6 linked regions of the Homo sapiens genome follow. Each later gene encodes a partner of the first gene's protein in a complex. Each region holds a gene or a part of one and is shown in the gene's direction. Other genes may lie near its edges.

Evidence for each region.
Region 2: THOC6 (region 1) and CHTOP share a complex: the UniProt entries of both Homo sapiens proteins name them as parts of the transcription/export (TREX) complex.
Region 3: THOC6 (region 1) and THOC3 share a complex: the UniProt entries of both Homo sapiens proteins name them as parts of the transcription/export (TREX) complex.
Region 4: THOC6 (region 1) and DDX39B share a complex: the UniProt entries of both Homo sapiens proteins name them as parts of the transcription/export (TREX) complex.
Region 5: THOC6 (region 1) and SARNP share a complex: the UniProt entries of both Homo sapiens proteins name them as parts of the transcription/export (TREX) complex.
Region 6: the proteins of THOC6 (region 1) and THOC7 are in contact, whole or in part, in a cryo-EM structure (PDB 7APK), measured with the Homo sapiens proteins. Residues at the interface, in NP_001334633.1 of Homo sapiens: Asp229, Trp232, His245, Thr252, Gln268, Asp269, Gln284, Leu285, Ser286; in NP_079351.2 of Homo sapiens: Lys110, Arg113, Lys114, Gln117, Glu118, Ala121 (codon at 238), Leu122 (codon at 241), Val125 (codon at 250).

Annotation. Positions count from the first base shown.
Region 1 is NC_000016.10:3,022,670-3,026,834, forward strand, and holds the start of THOC6 (THO complex subunit 6), read left to right. Parts: upstream 1-1,365; 5' UTR 1,366-1,657; coding exon 1,658-1,696; intron 1,697-3,038; coding exon 3,039-3,154; intron 3,155-3,254; coding exon 3,255-3,319; intron 3,320-3,393; coding exon 3,394-3,497; intron 3,498-3,581; coding exon 3,582-3,619; intron 3,620-3,695; coding exon 3,696-3,744; intron 3,745-3,846; coding exon 3,847-3,918; intron 3,919-4,009; coding exon 4,010-4,112; intron 4,113-4,165. Other genes in the region: HCFC1R1 (host cell factor C1 regulator 1), read right to left, coding at 194-329, 564-692, 805-861, 1,178-1,272. UniProt on the Homo sapiens protein: Component of the THO subcomplex of the TREX complex which is thought to couple mRNA transcription, processing and nuclear export, and which specifically associates with spliced mRNA and not with unspliced pre-mRNA.
Region 2 is NC_000001.11:153,640,566-153,644,065, forward strand, and holds part of CHTOP (chromatin target of PRMT1 protein), read left to right. Parts: intron 1-1,677; coding exon of another isoform or gene 1,678-1,680; coding exon 1,681-1,864; intron 1,865-2,661; coding exon 2,662-2,799; intron 2,800-3,500. UniProt on the Homo sapiens protein: Plays an important role in the ligand-dependent activation of estrogen receptor target genes. May play a role in the silencing of fetal globin genes.
Region 3 is NC_000005.10:175,965,516-175,969,638, reverse strand, and holds the start of THOC3 (THO complex subunit 3), read left to right. Parts: upstream 1-1,323; 5' UTR 1,324-1,430; coding exon 1,431-1,697; intron 1,698-2,371; coding exon 2,372-2,528; intron 2,529-4,123. UniProt on the Homo sapiens protein: Component of the THO subcomplex of the TREX complex which is thought to couple mRNA transcription, processing and nuclear export, and which specifically associates with spliced mRNA and not with unspliced pre-mRNA.
Region 4 is NC_000006.12:31,532,004-31,535,503, reverse strand, and holds part of DDX39B (spliceosome RNA helicase DDX39B), read left to right. Parts: intron 1-18; coding exon 19-137; intron 138-2,592; coding exon 2,593-2,724; intron 2,725-3,500. UniProt on the Homo sapiens protein: Involved in nuclear export of spliced and unspliced mRNA. Component of the TREX complex which is thought to couple mRNA transcription, processing and nuclear export, and specifically associates with spliced mRNA and not with unspliced pre-mRNA.
Region 5 is NC_000012.12:55,793,725-55,797,224, reverse strand, and holds part of SARNP (SAP domain-containing ribonucleoprotein), read left to right. Parts: intron 1-1,148; coding exon 1,149-1,200; intron 1,201-2,344; coding exon 2,345-2,418; intron 2,419-2,837; coding exon 2,838-2,866; intron 2,867-3,500. UniProt on the Homo sapiens protein: Binds both single-stranded and double-stranded DNA with higher affinity for the single-stranded form. Specifically binds to scaffold/matrix attachment region DNA. Also binds single-stranded RNA. Enhances RNA unwinding activity of DDX39A.
Region 6 is NC_000003.12:63,833,370-63,836,587, reverse strand, and holds the end of THOC7 (THO complex subunit 7), read left to right. Parts: intron 1-229; coding exon 230-287; intron 288-1,197; coding exon 1,198-1,264; intron 1,265-1,364; coding exon 1,365-1,434; intron 1,435-2,388; coding exon 2,389-2,456; 3' UTR 2,457-2,718; downstream 2,719-3,218. UniProt on the Homo sapiens protein: Component of the THO subcomplex of the TREX complex which is thought to couple mRNA transcription, processing and nuclear export, and which specifically associates with spliced mRNA and not with unspliced pre-mRNA.

The DNA of each region.
Region 1 (4,165 bases):
TGCCTCCCTTCCCATGCTCCCACCCCTCCCATCCCAGAACTCCGTTGGGCTCAGTGTCCTCTGTTGAGGGAAGGTCTTGGTGCCCAGATGCCTACTCTGCAGGAGAGGGAGGAACCTTGTCCCTTTGCGGGAGTCGCTGGTCTCTTCTGTTGTGGGGAAGAAGGAAGGTGGGAGGGGCACTGTCCACCAGCACTCAGAGCTCCATTATGTCCCCAGCTGGGGTTGCAGGGTAGGGGGGACTGGGGGTGTCCCCCAGCCTCAGCAGACGGAGGGCCTCAGGGATGAGGCTGCCAGGATAGCGCCAGAGAAGCAGCTCAGAGCAAGGGCTCCTAGAAGAGGAAATGACTGTCAGGGCATGGAGCTGAGGCTGGCCTAGCTGAGCACCTCCCACCAGGTCCAGGTCCCCAGGGGCTCCTGGGTTCCCAGCACTTTCCAAAGAGCCAAGATGGGAAACAACCCAGAGGTCAGCTAGAGCTAAAAATGGCACGATGAGGCAGGGCCTGAGGTCAGCTGTGAGGACCGCCTGTGATTCTGCAGAAGGCCTGGCCAGTGGAGGAACCTACCTGAGTGGGGGCAGGGCTGGGGAGAAGGTCATGGGGGGGCTGCAGTAGGGGTGGTCATTGTGCAGGCTGAGTTGAGAGAAGTGGGTGGCCATGTTCTCCTCAGACAGAAACTGCTTGCGCAGAGGCTCCCTGGGGAGAGATGGCAGAGAGGCAGGCTGGGATACTGACACAGGAGGCAGCCTGTTGGGGACCAGAGGTGACAGAGATCTTGTTGGGAGTCCCTCCCTGCCCCCAAACTCACTGCTCCTCCTCCAGGCGCCGCTTGGTGCTCATGGGCACAGCTCCTCGGAGAGGGGAGCTGGGAAAAAAAGAGAGCCTGGTGCACCCCACCCTCTTGGCCCCTTCCCAAGGATCTGCCCGCCTAAGCCTGCAGCATCAGCCAGGAGCCCCAAGCCCATTCCTGTCTCAGCTGGTGCCGGTCCCCGCTCTCCTGGACCATCCAGCAGGGTACCTCGGAAGTCTCGACCCTCAGCCGCAGCCCCAGTCCCATCTCAGCTCACGCCTAAGCCCCGCCGATTCGCCCCACCCCGTATTCATCCTGCAGACCAGTCCTGAGCACCCAGCCAAAGCTCCTGCGGCCCTTGGTCAGGCCCACCCTGGTCCCCTACACGCACCTGGCGTCCAGGCCCCAAGTCACCCCCAAGGCGGCCCGCGGGAGGCGCTGGGCCCCTCCCTGGGGGCCTCGCTGCAAGGGCTGCTGCAGGATCATTGGGTTTTGGGGTCCTGCGGGTGGGATCTGGGCGACAGGGGAGGAGTCTCTGAGGGCGTGGCCAAGAGAGGATGGGCGTGGCTTTAGGCGGGCACAGCCGCGAGGTTCTGCGCGGGCGCGGAAGACGGGCGGCGCGTGGCGGAAGGCAGGCTTGCTCCTCGGGGTGGGGGAGGGTATCCGGCTTAAGGGGGCTGCGGTGGACACCACTTCTTAATGTCGGGGGTCTTCGCGGCGCTCACCTCGGCTCCTAGGGTTCGGGACGGTACGCACCAGCCACCTTCGCGCCGAAGGCGGTAGGGCGCCACGGAGAGGAACCGCTCTAGGCACGTAAGGCCTCGTGAGGTTGCGTCGCGCGCGGAGCACTCTGGGACTTGTAGTTCTGGAGATGGAGCGAGCTGTGCCGCTCGCGGTGCCTCTGGGTCAGGTGAGACGGACGTGGTGCGCGTTGCCTTCTGGGGTTTGTAGTTCACGCATGGCTGGGACGGGGCGGGCAGGGAATCGTGCCCTGAGCCCTGTTTTGCCTGGGCTATTTGTGGGACTCAGACTCTGACCAGGGGGGCGGGATAGTAACCCAGAAGTGCTTCAGGGGCTTAACGCAAGTCAGAGAGTAGGAATTATAAATCAGTACGTTTTTCTATGTTGGGGTAGTAGAGGTACTTTTTTTTTTTTTTTAATTTTCTAGTTCTTGCAAAGCACTTTTTTTTTTTTTTTGAGACAGAGTCTCACTCTGTCACCTAGGCTAGAGTGCAGTGGCGCGATCTCAGCTCACTGCAACCTCCGCCTCCCAGGTTCAAGCGATTCTCCTGCCTCAGCCCTCCAAGTAGCTGGGACTATAGGCGTGTGCCACCATGCCCAGCTAATTTTCGTGTTTTTAGTAGAGACAGGGTTTCACCATGTTGACCAGGCTGGTCTCGAACTCCTGACCTCAGGTAATCTGCCTGCCTTGGCTTCTCAAAGTGCTAGGATTACAGGTGTGAGCCACCACGCCCGGCCAAATTTTTTTTTTTTTTTTTTTTTTGAGATGGAATTTCACTCTTGTTGCCCAAGCTGGAGTGCAGTGGCTCCATCTGGGTTCACCGCAACCTCCGCCTCCCAGATTCAAGCAATTCTCCTGCCTCAGCCTCCTGAGTAGCTGAGATTACAGGCATGCGCCACCACTCCCAGCTAATTTTGCATTTTTAGCAGAGACAGGGTTTCTCCATGTTGGTCAGGCTGGTCTTGAACTCCTGACCTCAGGTGGTCCACCTGCCTTGGCCTGCCAAAGTGCTGGGATTACAGGCGTGAGCCACTGCGCCCGGCCCCACATTTTTAAATTTTTTTTGAGACAGAGTCTCACTATGTTGCCCAGGCTGCTCTCAAACTCCTGGCCTCCCAGAGCGCTGGATTACAGGCATGAACCACCACACCCGGCTTAAGCACTGAGTGACAGCCCCATGTAAAGCTCTTGTCTATACACTAGCTCATCTAATTGTGATGGAATCTTCTGTGAGCTCCATTTGTCAGTTGAGGAAGCTGGCAGGAGAGGCCTGGGTGCTTGCTCAGAGGTCCCTGAGGCATCACCTCAACTCTCCCCTTCTTCAGTGTCTTCTTGGAGCCACCCATGGGACTGCATGGGCAGGTGCTGGCTTGGGGCGGGGCCGCCTCAAAAGAAGGCTGAGAAGTCAGGACAGTGGGAGGCCTGGCAGGTTTTGGGGGAAGCAGGGAGGAATCTGTGGATGGGAGGTTTCATACGTCCCAGGCAGGCCTCATCCAGTCTTTCCCTGCAGACAGAGGTGTTCCAGGCCTTGCAGCGGCTCCATATGACCATCTTCTCCCAGAGCGTCTCACCATGTGGGAAGTTTCTGGCGGCTGGCAACAATTACGGGCAGATTGCCATCTTCAGGTACCCTCTGCCGCTGTCCACCCATTAGCCCTGGCACTTGGCCCTCATGGGACGGATGCCCCCGTTTCTGACTCCTGGGTCCCCTCCGCTGTCCCTGCAGCTTGTCCTCTGCTTTGAGCTCAGAAGCCAAAGAGGAAAGTAAGAAGCCGGTGGTGACTTTCCAAGGTGGGTATACCTGTGGAGTCTGGCTTCAGGACTTTGGGTGGGATTGGCTCACTCAGTTCTGCATTTCTCTTTAGCCCATGATGGGCCCGTCTATAGCATGGTTTCCACCGATCGACATCTGCTTAGTGCTGGGGATGGGGAGGTGAAGGCCTGGCTTTGGGCGGAGATGCTCAAGAAGGTAAGGAGTCGAGCTTGGGAAAGGGCTGGGGTGCCTGGACCCAGAGAGAGCCTTTGAGGTCACCTGGTATTTTCTCTTTTGAAGGGCTGTAAGGAGCTGTGGCGTCGTCAGCCTCCATACAGGTGAGCAGGGCCACGTGGATAGAGGGTGCATCAGGGTGAAGCCACTTCCTCACTGACCTTGCCTTTCCTTCCCCAGGACCAGCCTGGAAGTGCCTGAGATCAACGCTTTGCTGCTGGTCCCCAAGGTCTGAGCCCCATGTGACTGTTCTTGGTCCAAACTTTGATCCTTCACCCTCTGCCTATCCTGATTTGACATTGACTTTCTGCCTCATCCTGCTCCTCCACAGGAGAATTCCCTCATCCTGGCTGGGGGAGACTGTCAGTTGCACACTATGGACCTTGAAACTGGGACTTTCACGGTGAGCAGGGTCCTGGAGCCCTAGAGCAGGTCTAGGTCAGGGAGAGGCACTCTTCCTAGGTCTCCTCCTGACATCGCCCCTCTACATGCAGAGGGTCCTCCGGGGCCACACAGACTACATCCACTGCCTGGCACTGCGGGAAAGGAGCCCAGAGGTGCTGTCAGGTGGCGAGGATGGAGCTGTTCGACTTTGGGGTAAGCAGGTGGCTGGTTGGAGGGCAAGATGGCAGTGAAGGAGGCTGAGGCAA
Region 2 (3,500 bases), on another chromosome or scaffold:
GGTCAGGAGTTCAAGACCAGCCTGGCCAACATGACAAGACCCCGTCTCCACCAAAAATAAGCCAGGCGTGATGACAGCTCCTGTAATCCCAGCTACTCGGGAGGCTGAGGCAGGAGAATTGTTTGAACCTGGGAGACGAAGGTTGCAGTGAGCCAAGATCGTGTCACTGCACTTCAGCCTGGGCAACAGAGCGAGACTGTATCTCAAAATAAAAATAATTGAAATAGCCACATGTAGCTATAGAGGCTGCCTTACACAGCACACCTCTAGAAGGGAAACTAAGTGGTATAGTTGACATCCTTAACTTCCCTGTTAATATTAAAGGCCGGTATTGGTGGCACTTAAGGATTGGAATGGGTAAAGAACTTCCCAGCACTGTACAGTTCTTTTAAAGCACAAAGCTTGGGAGAATTAATATATGCAGGATAACTGAACGCAAGAGACTTGTGGAATGCAGTTCTAACCTGATAATTGTGTGTTAATCGGGAGTAACAGGACAGGCCGTTACGGTTGGTTACACCTACTTATGCTAGATGCATAATGTTTGGAGCCTTCCCCACTGATGAGAAGCAATTTATGATCTTGTGCTAGAAAGTTAATAATGCTTCACAGCATCTTTTTGAGAGGTTGATTAGAAAACACACACATACACGTTGGTAGTCACTTGTGGGTGAAGCCTGAAGGGGCTATACAATTTATTTTCTTTCAGATTGACTGATGGCTTTATGGACAGCCAGGCTTACTAGGAGCTTGGTTGTGTTCAGGGCTATTGCTGTCCCTTTTTCCTTTGAAGGAATTTAATTCTCTGAGATGTAGTCTTAATGGTTTTCTTTTGAGAACAGATTCTTAAAAATACCCTATCTCTGTAGTGTGTCCTTGTTCTTATATATGGCCCTGAGTTTTGTGATCACCTGAATAATTCTAACATACGTTTGGCTGGCTGACTGTGGAGATACATTTGAGTTACATGTTTATTTTTAATTTAAGGTCATCATTGTTTTAAAGGAGCTGTTTGCAAGTGCAGGCATGGAATTAGGGATTTTTAAGAAATGTAAGGAAAGGAGATTTGACTTTCTTGTGTTTATTTACATCTTAAGGTAAAAAGTGGACCGTCTGGAAATAGATTCTCAGAGGAAAAATGGAGCACACGGGCCTTTTTGAGAAATCAATCTTGTTCTTAAGTCACAAGAACTCAAGTGAACTTGTAATTTAAGTTTTGCCCAGAGTGTGATGAACTTCCTATGGTGTTTGAGTAAGCCTTTGAAGACAGTGGTAGTCCATGGGCAGGTATGAATCAAGTCATATAATTGTCAACCTGTAGTTCAAAAGCAGTACAATCCAGGATTGAACTATAGAATGTTCTTACGAAAACTTAAGTTTCAACTGGCAGTGTATGACTTCTGTAGCCAAACTAGTGAGGTAATTTGTGGAGATGCCCATTTCATGGGACCACACTTGAGCTTCTTGGAGTTTCTGCTCTGGATCAAAATTCTGCTGCTTGTATAACATGTTCTGAGGCAAAGGCTTGCTTCTGGTTTGGGATCCTTTTGACACCCACAACAGGTTTATCTCCCTTCACACCAGCATCTCACTTGCTTCTTTTTCTCTGCACTTTGAGTTGCCAAATCCTGTTGGATTGCTTTTTTGATCTCAATCCCCTAACACCTTTTCTTCCAGAAGAGCTTAAAGCAGCGCCTGGGTAAGAGTAACATCCAGGCACGGTTAGGCCGACCCATAGGGGCCCTGGCCAGGGGAGCAATCGGAGGACGAGGCCTACCCATAATCCAGAGAGGCTTGCCCAGAGGAGGACTACGTGGGGGACGTGCCACCAGAACCCTACTTAGGGGCGGGATGTCACTCCGAGGTCAGTGCTGTGTACCCTGATAATTGTCGGGCCCTACTCCCTTCCCTTTTCTCTTGGGCTGCTTATGGACACGTTTGTTTAACATCTTTAAGCCTGAATTTGTATTAATATAATAACTTCTGAAATCACATATTTTTAATAGTGCTGCATGTCTTTTATCAATACCATTCCTTTTCTGATAATGTGCAATGGTGAGAGGCTATGACCTGCGTAACAACAGGTAATTCATGTCATCTCCATTCCATTTTAAAACACCCTGCTGTTGCTTGAATCAAAGCACATTCAAGTTCTAGAAACAAGTCAAACATAAGAAATTTATAGGTCTTTTGGCCTATATCTCTTTGTTCCTGGTGCTAGTAAAACACTGATACAGCTGGAAAAAGAGGACAAGTTGACCCACAGCACTTACCTATATATGTTCATTTGGGGCACTATTACTCTGTTCCCTGTATAGTTCTTGTTCCCTAGAAGAATCTGTTGAGATCAGGAACCATAGCATTTATTTTTAAATTTACCATAATGCTAGGCATCTATCTGATTATTCAGTAGATATTTATTAAATGTATGTACTTACTAATTGAATTAACTCCCAACTTCCAAAAATGGATTTGTGGTCAGACTTGTTGAATTGATTGAATAAAGAGTAGCTTAATCTGTTCACAGTATGCAGCTTGCCCCAGCCAACCTAAAAACTAACTGAATTACCTTCATTTAACCCTCACCGCCTTCCTTTGGTTAGAATCTACTTTGTGTCTCTTGGATTTACCTGCATATACATTGTATGCCTCCTCTCTAAGGTCAAAACCTGCTCCGAGGTGGACGAGCCGTAGCTCCCCGAATGGGCTTAAGAAGAGGTGGTGTTCGAGGTCGTGGAGGTCCTGGGAGAGGGGGCCTAGGGCGTGGAGCTATGGGTCGTGGCGGAATCGGTGGTAGAGGTTAGTCAGCTACCAACTTCAGAGAGTAGCTCCCCCTTACTTTCCTCCCTTAAAAACTCAGAGCCACCTTTCTGCACAGCTTCAAGTCATAGGCAGGCTTCTTTGTTTGTCTTGTTTTGTTATTTGAAACTGGCTTATTTTTCAAATTACCATGCTGGTAGTGCAAAAGTCTCATGATTTTTCCAAGAATCAATCAAGTGCATATTATAGAGCCAGATTATATGCCATCTTCCTCCAAGCTCTTGCAAATTTAAATTGTATAGTTGAAAATACCCCCCAAAATGGTCAGTTTAGGGTTTTGCCTTTCTCTGCCCCTGTCCCACCACCATCACCACCACATACCACCCTGTAGCTCCAAATCCTGGTTTGAGTCACATGAGAATATAGAAGAGAGAGAGAGATACAAAGATGAAGTAGAGTTAAGAGGGTGGTGAGACTTGGAGCTGGGCATTGGCTCTGAAACCAAATAAATTCAATGTCACATTTGGTGCCTGTGGAGAACCAGAGATGACTTTTTTTGCTTAAGGTAGAGAGCAAGATGGAATTATTATCAGTTAACTAACTGGCTCTTATTGATAATCTTGCCTTTGAAATTTATTGATGTTTGTCTTGTGACCTCATGACCCAGATTGGGAAAGAGTTTAATGATGTTGCTGCTGTTAATACTAAATCTCATGGGAGCCTTCTGGTTTAGAGCTTAG
Region 3 (4,123 bases), on another chromosome or scaffold:
AGTTTGGGGACACAGGATGGAGGGAAGCTTTTCAATCTATTCCCTTTTATACATTTTACATTTGTTACCAAGTGCACGTGTTGCCTTTTAAAAATTGGGTTTTTAAACACATTTACCACTACTACTCACCACCAAAACCTTCCCCCCTCAGCTCTTCTCCAGGGCCTTGACTGGCGCTGGCAGCTCACCACCCCTTTTTTCTCCAGCAAGAAGCCACTGGTTTAAGGGAGATATGAGAGGTGGGGTGGATACGCAGGTGGACATTTACTTTTCACTCTATATCTTTTATTTTTATATTTACAATCATGTGCATGTAATACTGTTACAGGAAAAGGGTCCCAATCCAGACCCCAGGAGTGGGTTCTTGGATCTCACTCAGGAAAGAATTCAGGGCAAGTCCGCAGTGCAAAGTGAAAGCAAGTTTATTAAGAAAGTAAAGGGAATAAAAGAATGGCCACTCCATAGACAGAGCAGCCCCGAGGGCCGCTGGTTGCGCATTTTTATGGTTTTTCCTGATGATATGCTAAACAAGTGGTGGATTATTCATGCCTCCCTTTTTTAGACCGTATAGGGTAACTTCCTGACATTGCCATGGCATTTACAAACTGTCCTGGCACTGGTGGGAGTGTAGAGGTGAGGATGACCAGAGGTCACTCTCATCGCCATTTTGGTTTTGGTGGGTTTTGGCCGGTTCCTTTACTGCAACCTGTTTTATCATCAAGGTCTTTATGACCTGTATTTTGTGCTGACCTCCTATTTCATCCTGTGATTAGAATGCCTTAACAGTCTGGGAATGCAGCCCAGTAGGTTTAAGCCTCATTTTACCCAGTTCCTATTTAAGATAGAGTTGCTCTGGTTCACACGCCTCTGCCATTACCTTTTAAAAACAAAAAATCCATTTTTATTTAAAAAAAAAAAACAAAACCTCCAGACCCCTTCTTAACACCTCTTCCCTCACTCCACACCCGCTAGCCCTTTTCATGGGACAAGCTCACCAGCTGGTCCTTCTCCAGCAAAAAGACCAGAGCTTTCTGCTCTTAAGGGAGGGGACTAGGGATTACGGAACAACCCCAGAAGAAAGGTGATGAGTTAACTGTTTAGAAGGTTAGTGTTGGTTCTTTTATTCGATTAAACAGGAATACACATATATCTACCAAAGAATAGGTAAGGGAGAAATAAGAACACTAAAAAAACTCGGAATCGTTAAGTGTGAAGCATATTTGGAGTTAAAAGAACCAAATATTACTAAGTAAGCAGACGCGGGCACGCGCTGCATACCGGGATTTGTAGTCCCTTCCGGGGCGGGGTACAGCGCGCCTGCGCAGAGGGGCCGTCGCTCTTCCGGGCGCATGCGTGCGGCAGCGGCGCCAGGACTGACTGCGCCGTGGAGGCTGCTGCAGTGTTGTGAGTTGGAAGCTGGGGAGCTCGGCATGGCGGTCCCCGCTGCAGCCATGGGGCCCTCGGCGTTGGGCCAGAGCGGCCCCGGCTCGATGGCCCCGTGGTGCTCAGTGAGCAGCGGCCCGTCGCGCTACGTGCTTGGGATGCAGGAGCTGTTCCGGGGCCACAGCAAGACGCGCGAGTTCCTGGCGCACAGCGCCAAGGTGCACTCGGTGGCCTGGAGTTGCGACGGGCGTCGCCTAGCCTCGGGGTCCTTCGACAAGACGGCCAGCGTCTTCTTGCTGGAGAAGGACCGGTTGGTGAGCTGCCGGGGCTCGGCTCAGGCTAGGGAGAGGGGCCGTGGTGAAGTGAGGTGCGGTAGTGGGAGAGCGAATGGGGGCGAACGGAGCCGCGGGGGTGAAAGGAGAGTGGGTTTGAGGGAAGGGGAAAGGGGGAGTGTGGAGATGAGGAGGGAGTAGGGAGAAGGTGGAGTGTGGGGGTGACGGGGTCGTGAGGGGTGAGGAGAGGAAGACTGGGGGCGTGTGAAGAGTGTGGAAGTAAGGAGGTTGGCGATGGCGGGTGAAGGTGAGGAGAGGGTGGATGGGACAGGGCTGCGATGGGAGCCTTACTGGTTTGGAGTCGAATCCTGTGCTGATAAGAAGTGGCTAGGGGCTGTGGTGGTGGTGGTGGTGGTGGTGGTGGTACGTTGGTGGTGGTACGTTGGTGGTACGTTGGTGGTAGAGTAAGGGTGGAAAACCAGGAAGGAGGAGAAGGCCAGGGAGGGCACAAAAGTAAGGGCATAGGTGTGGAAGCTGAGAAAAACAGTTCAGAAGGCCTGCGGAGAAGAGAAGGGAGAAAGGGCTTGGAGGAACTGGATTCTGAATTACCCAGATCTTTACTGGTCCCAGCATACTTTGGTTTGAATAAGCTTATAAAGTTACATGCGGAGGCAGTTACATCTATGTGAAGTCACATCTGGATTCTGTTCTTTCAGGTCAAAGAAAACAATTATCGGGGACATGGGGATAGTGTGGACCAGCTTTGTTGGCATCCAAGTAATCCTGACCTATTTGTTACGGCGTCCGGAGATAAAACCATTCGCATCTGGGATGTGAGGACTACAAAATGCATTGCCACTGTGAACACTAAAGGTGACTATTCAGAGAGAGGGCAATAGGAAGATAAGCTGTTTGGATTCATTCAACAACCATTTTCCGAATATCTTTTCTGTGCTTGGCACTCAGCTGTGTATGAGACATCCTGAGCTGAATAAGAGTTTCCAGCTCCAAGGACCTCCCCTGCGGGGAGAAGACATATATATACAAATAACATAGCAAGATATGGTTCATTTTATAATGGAGAGGTCTGCAAGGTGGATACCCAGAATAGAAATGAAAACAAAAGTCTGCCTAGGGGAGCCAGGGAAGGCCTCACCAAATTTGAGCAAACTTTTAGGGTAGCCATAGGAGTTGAGTGGTCAGGGTGCTGTGGGTGGGGAATGGGACATTTCCAGGAGGGAACGGCATGTGCAAAGGCATGGAGAATTTGGAAAATTCTGATGAGTTAGAATGGTTGAAACTTGGATGGTCTTGGTGATCTGGGAGAAAGTTGTGCAGTACATTTATAGGCTCTGTTGTAAGTATTGAGGCCGATATTGTATGGGACTCTGAGTTTTCATTGATCGTAAGATGTTCCATTAGGAAAGAAAGTTGGTAAATAACTGTGATACACCCAAAATTTTGAAATGCTTTCTGATACATTTTAAGATACAGTGTAGATACTAAAATGTGAGAAAATATGCGTTTTAGAATGGAAAAAGTTGGTGAGATTTTTAATTGATGTGTTCAGTGTGGGCCACTGGACTTTGTTGACAAGACTTATCTCTGGAGGCGGAATGGTGTGGTTTTTCCCCAAGTATACAGCTGCTGATCCATGAGTGATTCAGGTGATGCGTGGGTGAACATTAAAAACCAGTTTTGCAAATATCTTAATGTCTACTAGAAGAACTAGCACATAGAATTTATTATTCAGTTGAAGCTAAATTTATTTTATTTTTATTTATTTTATTTTATTTTTATTTTTGAGACAGGGTCTTGCCCTGTTACCCAGGATGGAGTACAGTGGCACAATATTGGCTCCCTGCAGCCTCCACCTGGGCTCAAGCCATCCTCTCACCTCAACCTCCTGAGTAGCTGGGACTACAGGCACATGCCACCATGCCTGGCTAATTTTTTGTAGAGACGGGTTTTGCCATATTGCCCAGGCTGATCTTGAACTCCTGGACTCAAGTGATCTGCCTACCTTGGCCTCCCAAAGTGCTGGAATTACAGGCTTGAGCCTCCACAGCTGGCTGCTAAATTTATTTAAGTAAACTTTTTTGAATCAATTTTAAGAAAAATCTTGAATAAAGAAAAGTATAGTGTTTAATGGATAGGACAAAAATTGTGATGTTGGCATGCGAATGGCTGGAGTTGAGAAATGCTGGTGTAAGAGAAAAGGGGGCTTTGGGGTCAAATCTGGGTTTAAAATCTTGGCTTGGCCGGGCACGGTGGCTCACGCCTGTAATCCCAGCACTTTGGGAGGCCGAGGCGGGCGGATCACGAGGTCAGGAGATCGAGACCATCCTGGCTAACACGGTGAAACCCCGTCTCTACTAAAAATACAAAAAAATTAGCCTGGTGTGGTGGCAGGCGCCTGTAGTCCCAGCTACTCGGGAGGCTGAGGCGAGAGAATGGCGTGAACCCAG
Region 4 (3,500 bases), on another chromosome or scaffold:
TTTTCCTTGTTCTTGTAGACATGCGTCGGGATGTCCAGGAAATTTTTCGCATGACCCCCCACGAGAAGCAGGTCATGATGTTCAGTGCTACCTTGAGCAAAGAGATCCGTCCAGTCTGCCGCAAGTTCATGCAAGATGTAAATACCCTTCTACCTTCTCTCCCTCCACTCCCCGCCCGCTGCCTCCTCCCCTTCCTCGCCCTCTTCCTCAGACTCCCTTGTCATTCAAGTGCCAAGAAGGCGGCTTGTGCCCAACTGGGAGTAATGACTCCTTGAAGAGACATACAGAAGCAGAGACAGCTAGTGTTAGGGCCTGCGCGGGTGCCAGGGAAACTCCGGAAGACTTGGTCGGGTTAATGTGAGAGCGGGTAGTGTTCGACTTTTTCATAAATCACAACATTTTTGAACCTCTTCTCCCTTTGGGGGAGGGCAGGATTTTTCTGCCCTACCACCCACCCATCCATCGTCTCTTACATGCACCCTACAGCCACGCACCCTCAAGGTGGCATCGAGCGTACAGCTGGAGCCTTCTGCTCACCAAAACTCCTACTTCCCGGTGGCAGGAGAGCAAGAGAGGGACAGACAGATGGCAGGGCATGTCCAAAAGAAGAGCATCAGCACAAATGAATCCTCCCCTTCCCCACCTCCAGGGGTGGGGGCCTTTGGCACCTCAATCCCCGATACCCTACTCCTTCCCACCCACATCTCCTTGCACCCATCTGGAACCTCGGTTGATGTGAGCCGGCAACAGAGAAGCACCGTGGCGCGGCGAGGGAATGCAGACGGCACCCAGCGGTGGATGGCGGCAGCGGAGGCCGCGGGGAAACCTGACCAGGAAGCTGAGGACCAAACCAGCCTCTTTTTCCGTTCCCGGTTTTTTTCCTGAACCCAACGCGTGCCGTGCCCCGTTTCCCCCAATATGTGTTGGGGAGGGGTGTCCTGAATGGGGTGGTAGATTTTTTTTCTTAAAAAAATTTTTTTGTTTTTTTTAATACTCAGAGGAGAGGGACATAGGAAAGGTAAAGTGGATGTAATCGGGTGGTTGTTAGGGTTTGGGGCTAGGTGGGGCCAATTGCATAAGCAGTGGAGTGTGTTCTTCCCCTCCCTGCAGTGTTCCTTCCCGTGGGATGATCACTCTTTAGCTGTATTTGGGGCTAGAATGAGATTTGAAGGAGGCCATGGAACTTCTCTTTAGAAAGCCTGCCTTGGCTGGGCCTGGTGGCTCACCTCTAATCCCAGCACTTTGGGAGGCCAAGGTGGGAGGATTGCTTGAGCCCAGGAATTTGAGACTAGCTGGGGCAGTGTAGTGAGACTTTGTCTCTACCAGAAAAACCGGGCGTGGTGGCGCATGCCTGTAGTCCCAGCTACTTGGGAAGCTGAGGCAGGAGGGTTTGCTTGAGCCCGGGACGTGGAGGTGGCAGTAAGCTGTAATTGTGCCACTGTACTCCAGCCTGGGTGATAGAGAGAGACCCTGTATCAAAACAAAACAAAAAACAAAACCTGCCTTCTGGGATTGGGCTTCTGGTTTTTTTCCCATGACACACGCATCCTTTCCTATTTTGTCCTCTGGGTCTTCATATTAACTATCTTCCCCCAGGATAGTATAAAAAGTGTTAGGAAAGTTGGGCTTTGGAGTTGTGGTAATTTCTGTCTTTGTTACTTTCCTCCCCTTCAGGGGGTTTTTTAATTTTAAAGATGAATGCAGTGAGGTATAATGGTGTGTGCCTGTAGTCCCAGCTATTCAGGAGACTGAAGCAGGAGGATCACTTGAGCCCAGGAATTTGAGGCTATAGTGTGCTATGATTGTGCCAGTGAATAGCCACTGCACTCCAGCCTGGGCAACATGGTGAGATCCTGTCCCTTAAAAGTGTATCTGCTGCTCTGAATTTGGTATTTTAACACCACTTACTGATACCTTTCCTGTAAACCTGTAGATGGTTTAATTCTTAGTCAAGAGACCAGTCTCATCTAAAACTATCCTGTTGTGGTCTGACGGCAAGTAACTCATCTTGAGTAATTTTTGTTTCTCCTTAAGTGGCATTTTGACTGTCCATTGCAGCATTCTGATCTTAAAAGACATCCACTTTGCTAATGCACACGAGATTCTCTTAGTTGAAGTAGGAGAATCAAATGGAGCAGTTGTCCTCCCCCCACCCCATGTTCTTAGAAGCACCTCTGATGGAGTTATTCTGACCTTGAGTCACTGCCTCCCATCATTTCCCAGATGTTTGGTCCTTGCTCTCCCTTTGAGAATCATCTCCCATTTTCTTTCCTCTCCCACCTCTATTTGAGGTAATGGCATCTGTGCCATTGGGTGGTTTCACTGCTCCTTGACTTCATTTGCAGTTTCTTTCCCATGATAGTTTTTAGTTGGGCAGTCTTAAAACTCATCTGATAGGAAGGAAATTAGATGTAATGTGAGAGAGACCACAGTAAAATGTGGGTATTTTTGGGAGTGGGGTGGGGTTTTCAATCTTCTCTTTCCTCCCCATCCCCCCATGGGGTGTATTGGAGATCAACTTCCTCCACCCCCCCAGGTTTAACCCCCCCACTCTGCCCTCCTCCCGTTCCCCACCCCCTTCCTCCCCCCCAGCCAATGGAGATCTTCGTGGATGATGAGACGAAGTTGACGCTGCATGGGTTGCAGCAGTACTACGTGAAACTGAAGGACAACGAGAAGAACCGGAAGCTCTTTGACCTTCTGGATGTCCTTGAGTTCAACCAGGTCAGTTAGACGTCCAGTAGGGGGATGAGCATTGGAGCACTCCAGCTGTAGCAGAAACCTGGATATTAAGTACACTTTTATTGAGGAAATCACATGTGTGATGTGGGAGAGAATAATGAGGGTATAAATATCTTAGGGGCTGAGCATGAGTAAGGTGGGAGCTGCTTTTCTATTCTATGGCTGGCACGGGTATGTCCTCAATAACCTCAAGGAAAATAAACTTCAAAAATTAAGATCCTTGGCCAGGCACGGTGGCTTATGTGTGTAATCCCAGCACTTGGGGAGGCTGAGGGAGGTGGATCACTTGAGTCCAGGAGTTTGAGACCAGTCGGGGCAACATGGCGAAACTTCATCACTACCAAAGAAGAAAAAAATTAGCCAGGTGTGGTGGTGTATGCCTGTAGTCCCAGATACTCTGGTGGCTGAGGTGAGAGGATAGCTTGAGCCCAGGAAATTGAGGCTGCAGTGAACTATGATTGCACTACTGTGCTCCAGCTTGGGCAACAGAGTGAGATCTTGTCTCCAAAAGTCCTTGAAGGATTTTAGGAAGTTGTTAAAAGTCTTGAAACGATGTTTGGGGGCATGTTAGGGTTCTTGAATGTTTAATTCCTCTAATAACTGCTTATTCAAGAGAAGCATTTCTGACTGGGTGCAGGGCAGTGGCTCATGCCCATAATCCCAGTACTTTGGGAGGCTGAGGCAGGAGCATTGCTTGAGCCCAGGACTTCAAGACCAGCCTGGGTAACATAGGGAGACGCCCGTCTCTACAAATAGTA
Region 5 (3,500 bases), on another chromosome or scaffold:
GAGTAAGTTCTTATTCCAGAATTGCTTCCTCTGAAAATGTCATTAAACCATTACTACCTTTCAGGGCATCAAATGGGAAAAGTGTTCAGGATATTGGAACAAAAGCTGCCCATGTCTCTAAATGAGGGACCTTAATGAGACTGGTTATGACCCACAGTTTTATGGGAGTTGTTTGGTGGAGGGTTAATGCCCTTCCATTTATCGTGGGTACTTCCGAACTTTGTCTCCCGCCCCTGTGGTCCCCCCTCTTTTGTTTCCTCTTAAACCTTTGACCACTAGCTTACCATGTTTTCCTAATTCAAACTCCCCTTAGACTTTTTTCTTCCTACCTTCTTTGGCATTTTTATTTGTTTCACTTTGACTGTTCCAGCTAGAGCTACATTCCCCATGGGAGAAATAAGGGATTTTTAAAAGAAGGAAACCAGACCTTGTAGAGTACTTATTAATTGTTGTGATGAACATTGGGAGGTGGTACTTAAAGGAGGATTGGAGGGTTACTCATTAGTTCAAAAGTAAATTAAAGGCTGGGCTCGGTGGCTGATGCCTGTAATCCCAGTACTTTGGGAGGCCGAGGTGGGTGGATCACTTGAGGCCAGGAGTTCGTGACTAGCCTGGCCAACATGGTGAAACCCTATCTCTACTAAAAATACAAAAATTAGCTCGGCGTGGTGGCAGGTGCCTGTAATTCCAGCTACTCAGGAGGTTGAGGCAGGAGAATCTCTTGAACCCAGGAGGTGGAGGTTGCAGTGAGCTGAGATCGTGCCATTGCACTCCAGCCTGGGCGACAAGAGCAAAACTCCGTCTCAGAAAAATAAAAGTAAATTGAAAAGTTCCTAAAAGCAAATGAGATGGTTTCTGGTGTCCTTTGAGTGTTTCCCTTCAGCCCAGTATATTTAACCAGACTTCTTTCCTTATTTCTTTATTATACTTTAGCTAAAGAAGCTTAGTTTGTTATTTGAACTCTTTCCTCTCAATAGATGACAGTTAAAGGAACCAAAGCTCTAGTGGACTTCATGTTTCTTTGGCTTAGGGGGTGGCAGAGAGATAATAGGGCAGAGAATGGTGACTCAGGTGAATTCTTACACATTTCTGAGGTTGTGGTTTAGAATATCAGTTTTCTCATTTTAAAAAATCTCTTTCTTTTCTAGGGCAGCAGAGAAGAAAGTGGTGAAAATTACATCTGAAATACCACAGACTGAGGTAGGTATTCTGCTCCCTAGTAGAACAGTCTCTACATTTCTCTCTCCCTCTTACCCTTTATTATATCTGCATCATCCTCTAAAATTTATTCACAGGCAGAAAATCAGTATTGGCAGATTTTGGTGTTGATACGTTTCACTGCCAGCTACTCTTTGGAAAATATTTGGCTGGCGTAGGGGTAGTCATTCTTGAAGTTGTAGTCTTTTTATATGTAATATTATGGTCTTAACAGTGACTCTCTTTGAGATGTTTTCAAACCTAGGATTAGATTTAGGAGGATTGTACCTTGAAAATGTATTGGTAGATGTGACTCTTATGTTGCTACTGGCCAGTAGCTGAGATTGAAATTTCTCTGGTTTCTGTGGTGCAGGACTGTGAAACCAGGTTCCATTTGAGATCTTGTGTTCAGTATCATACTTGCAAAGTAGAGAATTATTAAACTCTTTTAGAATGGCATAAAACAATGCTGCCTCATTTCTAACTGAAAGAATACCATTGGTGTTGGAACCAAGCTATTCCTTTGATCACTTTTCAAAGGTCAGCCAAACATAGCTTTTGACTTCTTGGCTTCATGCATAATGTAGGTTTTACTTTATTTCTCCCTTTTGTTTTTGAGGGCATCTAGTAATAGTCTTTTTTTGTTTGCTTTGTGGGAAGGGCCGTTAAGTCCTAGCATGGACACAACCTGATATCTTCTAGGATTGTCAGTATTTTCAGTTTAGACCCTAAGAAATTACTTCTGATGTTTTTAAGATACCTACCTTTGGCTGGGCCAGGTGGCTCACGCTTGTAATCCCAGCAGTTTAGGAGGCTGAGGTGGGCAGTTCACTTGAGGCCAGGAGTTCAATATCAGCCTGGCCATCATGGTGAAATCTCATTTCTACTAAAAGCACAAAAATTAGCTGGGCACAGTGGCACAGTCCTGTAATCCCAGCTACTCAGGAGGCTGAGCCACGAGAATCGCTCGAACCCAGGAGGCTGAGGTTGCAGTGAGCCGAGATCATGCCACTGCACTCCAGGCTGGGGGACAGAGTGAGACTCTTTTTTTTTTTTTTTTTTTTTTTTTTAAAGATACCTACCTCTGACTGACTTTCTTAAACCATAAATTGACTTTTTTTTCTCCCTTTTGTCTATTTTTACTTAGAGAATGCAGAAGAGGGCTGAACGATTCAATGTACCTGTGAGCTTGGAGAGTAAGAAAGCTGCTCGGGCAGCTAGGTGAGTGTCCCCAGCCTTTTGGGCCTCTGATAGGGGTGTTGTAAAGATGAAGATGTGTGATCCTAGCTTTTAGGTATAATTGTTGATTTTAAGTAGAATAGAGGCTTGCTGAAGGATATGAACACTTTTTTGACCCTATTCAGAACATGTCTACTGATTTGGTTATAGTAGCTATAAATTGAGCTTTATTGAGAAGGGTTTTTGTAACAGTTAAAGCCAGGAACTGACTACTACTAATTCTGATAAGGCTTCCTTTTAGCTTAATTTCTGAACCTCTTTCATGGGGTTGTTAGAATTAGCTAATGATTGCAAGGCTTGAGATCACAAGCAAGAAGTGTCATATGTATACTTGACACGGAGACAGACAAACCAGGAGTGTGAACAGCTTCCTAAAATTTAGTTTGTTTTTCCTTCTTCAGGTTTGGGATTTCTTCAGTTCCAACAAAAGGTAAGAGTACAGAGATACTTCTGAGAAAGTTACCTTTTTATTCTTTCTTTTCTGGTATAACAGGTTTTATTTCTCCAAAATAAGGTAAATTTGCTAGCTGTAGAAACTCTTTAAGAGATTGTAACATTCATCTCCTGCTTTAGGTAAAATTATACTTAGGCCTTCCTGGGCAATTAAGAGAGATACTGAATGTTATGAGAGGATAGGAAGTGCCAACATTTGTCTGTCTTTTCTTGAACATCTTCAAAGAAGTTTCTCTAGTACTTTGCTTACTTATTCTGGGGTCTCAACTGCATAAAATTATTGCATACTATCTAGTGTTATACTGGCTATTATAAGTGATAAAAGGGAAAAGAATATCTTCTACCTTAACAGTTTTACTTCTAGGAACGTATAAGGAAATAGTCTTGAATGTGCATAAAGACTTAGCCTCAGGGATTATCACAGCATTATTTATAGTGATCAATAACTGGAAACAACCAACTGTACAACAGAGAATTAGTTATTAAATGTGTGCCATGGTATAGCAGACTACTGTGCTGAAATAATATTGAAAGATATTTATCAGAGATATTAATGAAAAAAGTTACAAAATTATATTAACAGTACGTTCCCATTTTAGTCATGTAAGAGT
Region 6 (3,218 bases), on another chromosome or scaffold:
AAATGGAAAAAAAGTGGGAGCTAAAACCCCTGTTTGGAACACTTTTGATGTTATGTATCGTTATAATTATAACTCAGTTAACTAAAACTGGCAATACTCATCTTTCAGTGATTTCATTTCTTGATGTACTAGGAAAGTGATTAGGAGAGGTTTGTGATATTACACATTTTGTTTTGATAATTCACATTCAAAAAATCCTTAGTTTGATAAATATTTTTATGTCTTACAGAATATGATGCTTTGGCAAAAGTGATTCAGCACCATCCAGACAGGCATGAGACATTAAAGTAAGTGTAGAGCTTTACTTTGAAAGGAACTAACCTTTATACATAAATGCTCGAAAACTACCGTAGGCATTTCATTTTTGCAGAAATAAATATGTTTCAAAAGGAGGGGTCAGATATTCAATATTATATTTTCCCATACTTCTCTGTTAGATTTTATTTTCCTCTAACCTTACCAGCTATATGTCTAAAATAAATGCATATAATATGCATCAATATCACAATGGATAAATAGAATATGGTCTTCATATATTAAAATATTGAATTTCAGTTAAAAAGAATAAACTAGTTATGCCCTTTTAAAACACAGCTCTCAAAACATAATCAGTGAAAAGACACATAATAAACTTTAAATTATATTTAAATTCCTGAAACACATACAGAATAATAACCATTTATAAAAGTTAGAACCCCCTTTCAAATATTATATACCAATACTGTGTATTATTCAGGGATACAAGTATATGCATAAAAAAGAATAAGAATGATATAGTAGTTGCCTGAGTGGGAGGTAGAGGAGATAAAAAGGCCCAGGATAGAGGACTAGGCGTAAGATTCAAAGGGTATTTCGAGTTAATTGGCAATGTTTTATTTCTTTTACCAAAATAAAAAACCCTCGAAGTTAAACTTCACAATATGTATCATTTCTTGGGTCTTGTTATTCTGTTATCTGTATTTTTCTGTACTTTAAAAATGGATCCAAAAATGTAATTTTAATGAAAGTGAGTCCATATTTAGAAGTTAAGAAGAAATCATCCTCAGCTTTAAAAGTTTCACCATAATGGAGTGTTATAACTCCTTATAAGCCCTTTTTTTATTTTAAAAATCCTATCTAGTAACTTAAAAGTTAGGCATTAATTGTAAACTCTTCTCCCCCATTCAGCAAAATGTAACACTGTTTTATTATTTCCAGGGAACTAGAGGCTCTGGGAAAAGAATTAGAGCATCTTTCACACATTAAAGAAAGTGTTGAAGATAAGGTATTCGCATATATATTTAGCCTTCATGATCTGTCTATCTGTCTGTCTATATATCTATATATACAGGTCATTTGTATAAATTTTTTTCTTGTTAACACAGCTGGAATTGAGACGGAAACAGTTTCATGTTCTTCTTAGTACCATCCATGAACTTCAGCAAACATTGGAAAGTAAGTAGAAATAGTCTCAAAGTAAATGCTTATGAAGATTTTTTAAATGACCCAGGGATGTACCTTTTGAAATATACATCTTGGAGAGACAGTATACCTTCAATTTCTGAACAGTGTAGCTGGATGACGTTAGAAGGTACTCATGTTCAACTTTCTTGAATACATGTAGAAAAGTCTTAATTTGTAGTAATATAGGATTTAAACATATACATAGTGGTTTAAATTAAGAAAAATTCAAGGATGATAGATTTGGAATCTTTCTTGGTTCACTGTAGTTGACTACTATAATATAACAACTCAGGACCCAGGCAGGCAATAATAAGAAATCAGTACATACGAACATTTGCATACCCACTGAGTAGTGGGTGCTTTGGGGAACTGGAGACTTGCTCTTTATATTCACTATAGGCAAGTGGAAATTTTTGTGTTACCTGATCTTCTGATTGTTTTAAAGAATAGCCTAAGACCCATTTTTTCTTTTCTTTTTTTTTTTTTTAAGACAGTCTTGCTCTGTCACCCAGGCTGGAGTGCAGTGGCACAATCTTGGCTCACTGCAATCCTCACCTTGCAGGCTCAAGTGATTCTCCTGCCTCAGCCTCCCTAGTAGCTGGAATTACAGGTGCATGCCACCACACCCAGCTAATTTTAGTATTTTTAGTAGAGACGGGGTTTTACCATGTAGGCCAGGCTGGTCTTGAATTCCTGACCTCAGGTGATCCACCTGCCTTGGCCTCCCAAAGTGCTGGGATTATAGGCATGAGCCACCAGACCCTGCCTGGATTTTTTTTTTTTTAAGTGAAGTCTATCACATAAATTTTAAAGTTTGATTCAACTAGTAGCCATCTTAGCTTTAATTGTATTGGCTAATAAAGGATAAACATGTTTTCATGTGTTCATCGAATATAAAATATAGGCAAACTTGACTAAGGTTTTATGTTTCCTTCTCAATTACAGATGATGAAAAACTCTCAGAGGTAGAAGAAGCTCAGGAAGCAAGCATGGAAACAGATCCTAAGCCATAGACAGGCTAATTGCCCACCACTCCCAGGAATATTGAAATAGCTACATGACCATAATGTGTTTAAAATGTGGTATGCTCTTGAGATATTTAAAGTTTTGGCAGTAAAATACTCTGTTTTTAAGTATGAATGTATTTCATTCATATTTCCTCTCACAAAGGAAAATGACTTCAGTATAGATTTGTTTTTATTAAAATGCATTTTTTATTCTTAAGTGGTAGGAAGCAACATCCAAAAATGCTTAATAAAATGCTTTTAAGCTGCATATGTTTGTGCTCATTAATATTCTAGGTAGTTTTTAACTGGTAACATTGATTGGCTTACAAAATAAGTTGAAAATTGTTAGAAGTTGGCATTTCTAGGATGTACATGGGAAAATGAGCCAATTTCTGGAAATGGTTACACTTCTGAAAACGGAGTCTATGAAGAGGCTTTAGGAGGACCATGAACCTGTGAAATTACATGCAAAATGTTAGTGGTGTATGCTTATTGTGGAGAGAGGTTCCAGGCTGTTAAAATTCGCTGGTATGGGACGTTAATTATAAGATGCAAAGTAAAATAGTGCACATTACTTTATATATCTCTCCTTAATATGAGAGGAATATGGTTCTCAAATGTTTTGTTGATCTGTTTTCTCTACTGTTTTGTTCTTTAGGAATCATTTTCAATAGAAAAAGATGTATTGATAAAGTGAAGAGTGTTTGAAGTAAATAGTTTGTTAAGATTGTTTTGCGTAGGCCAGGCATGGTGGCTCACACCTTTAAT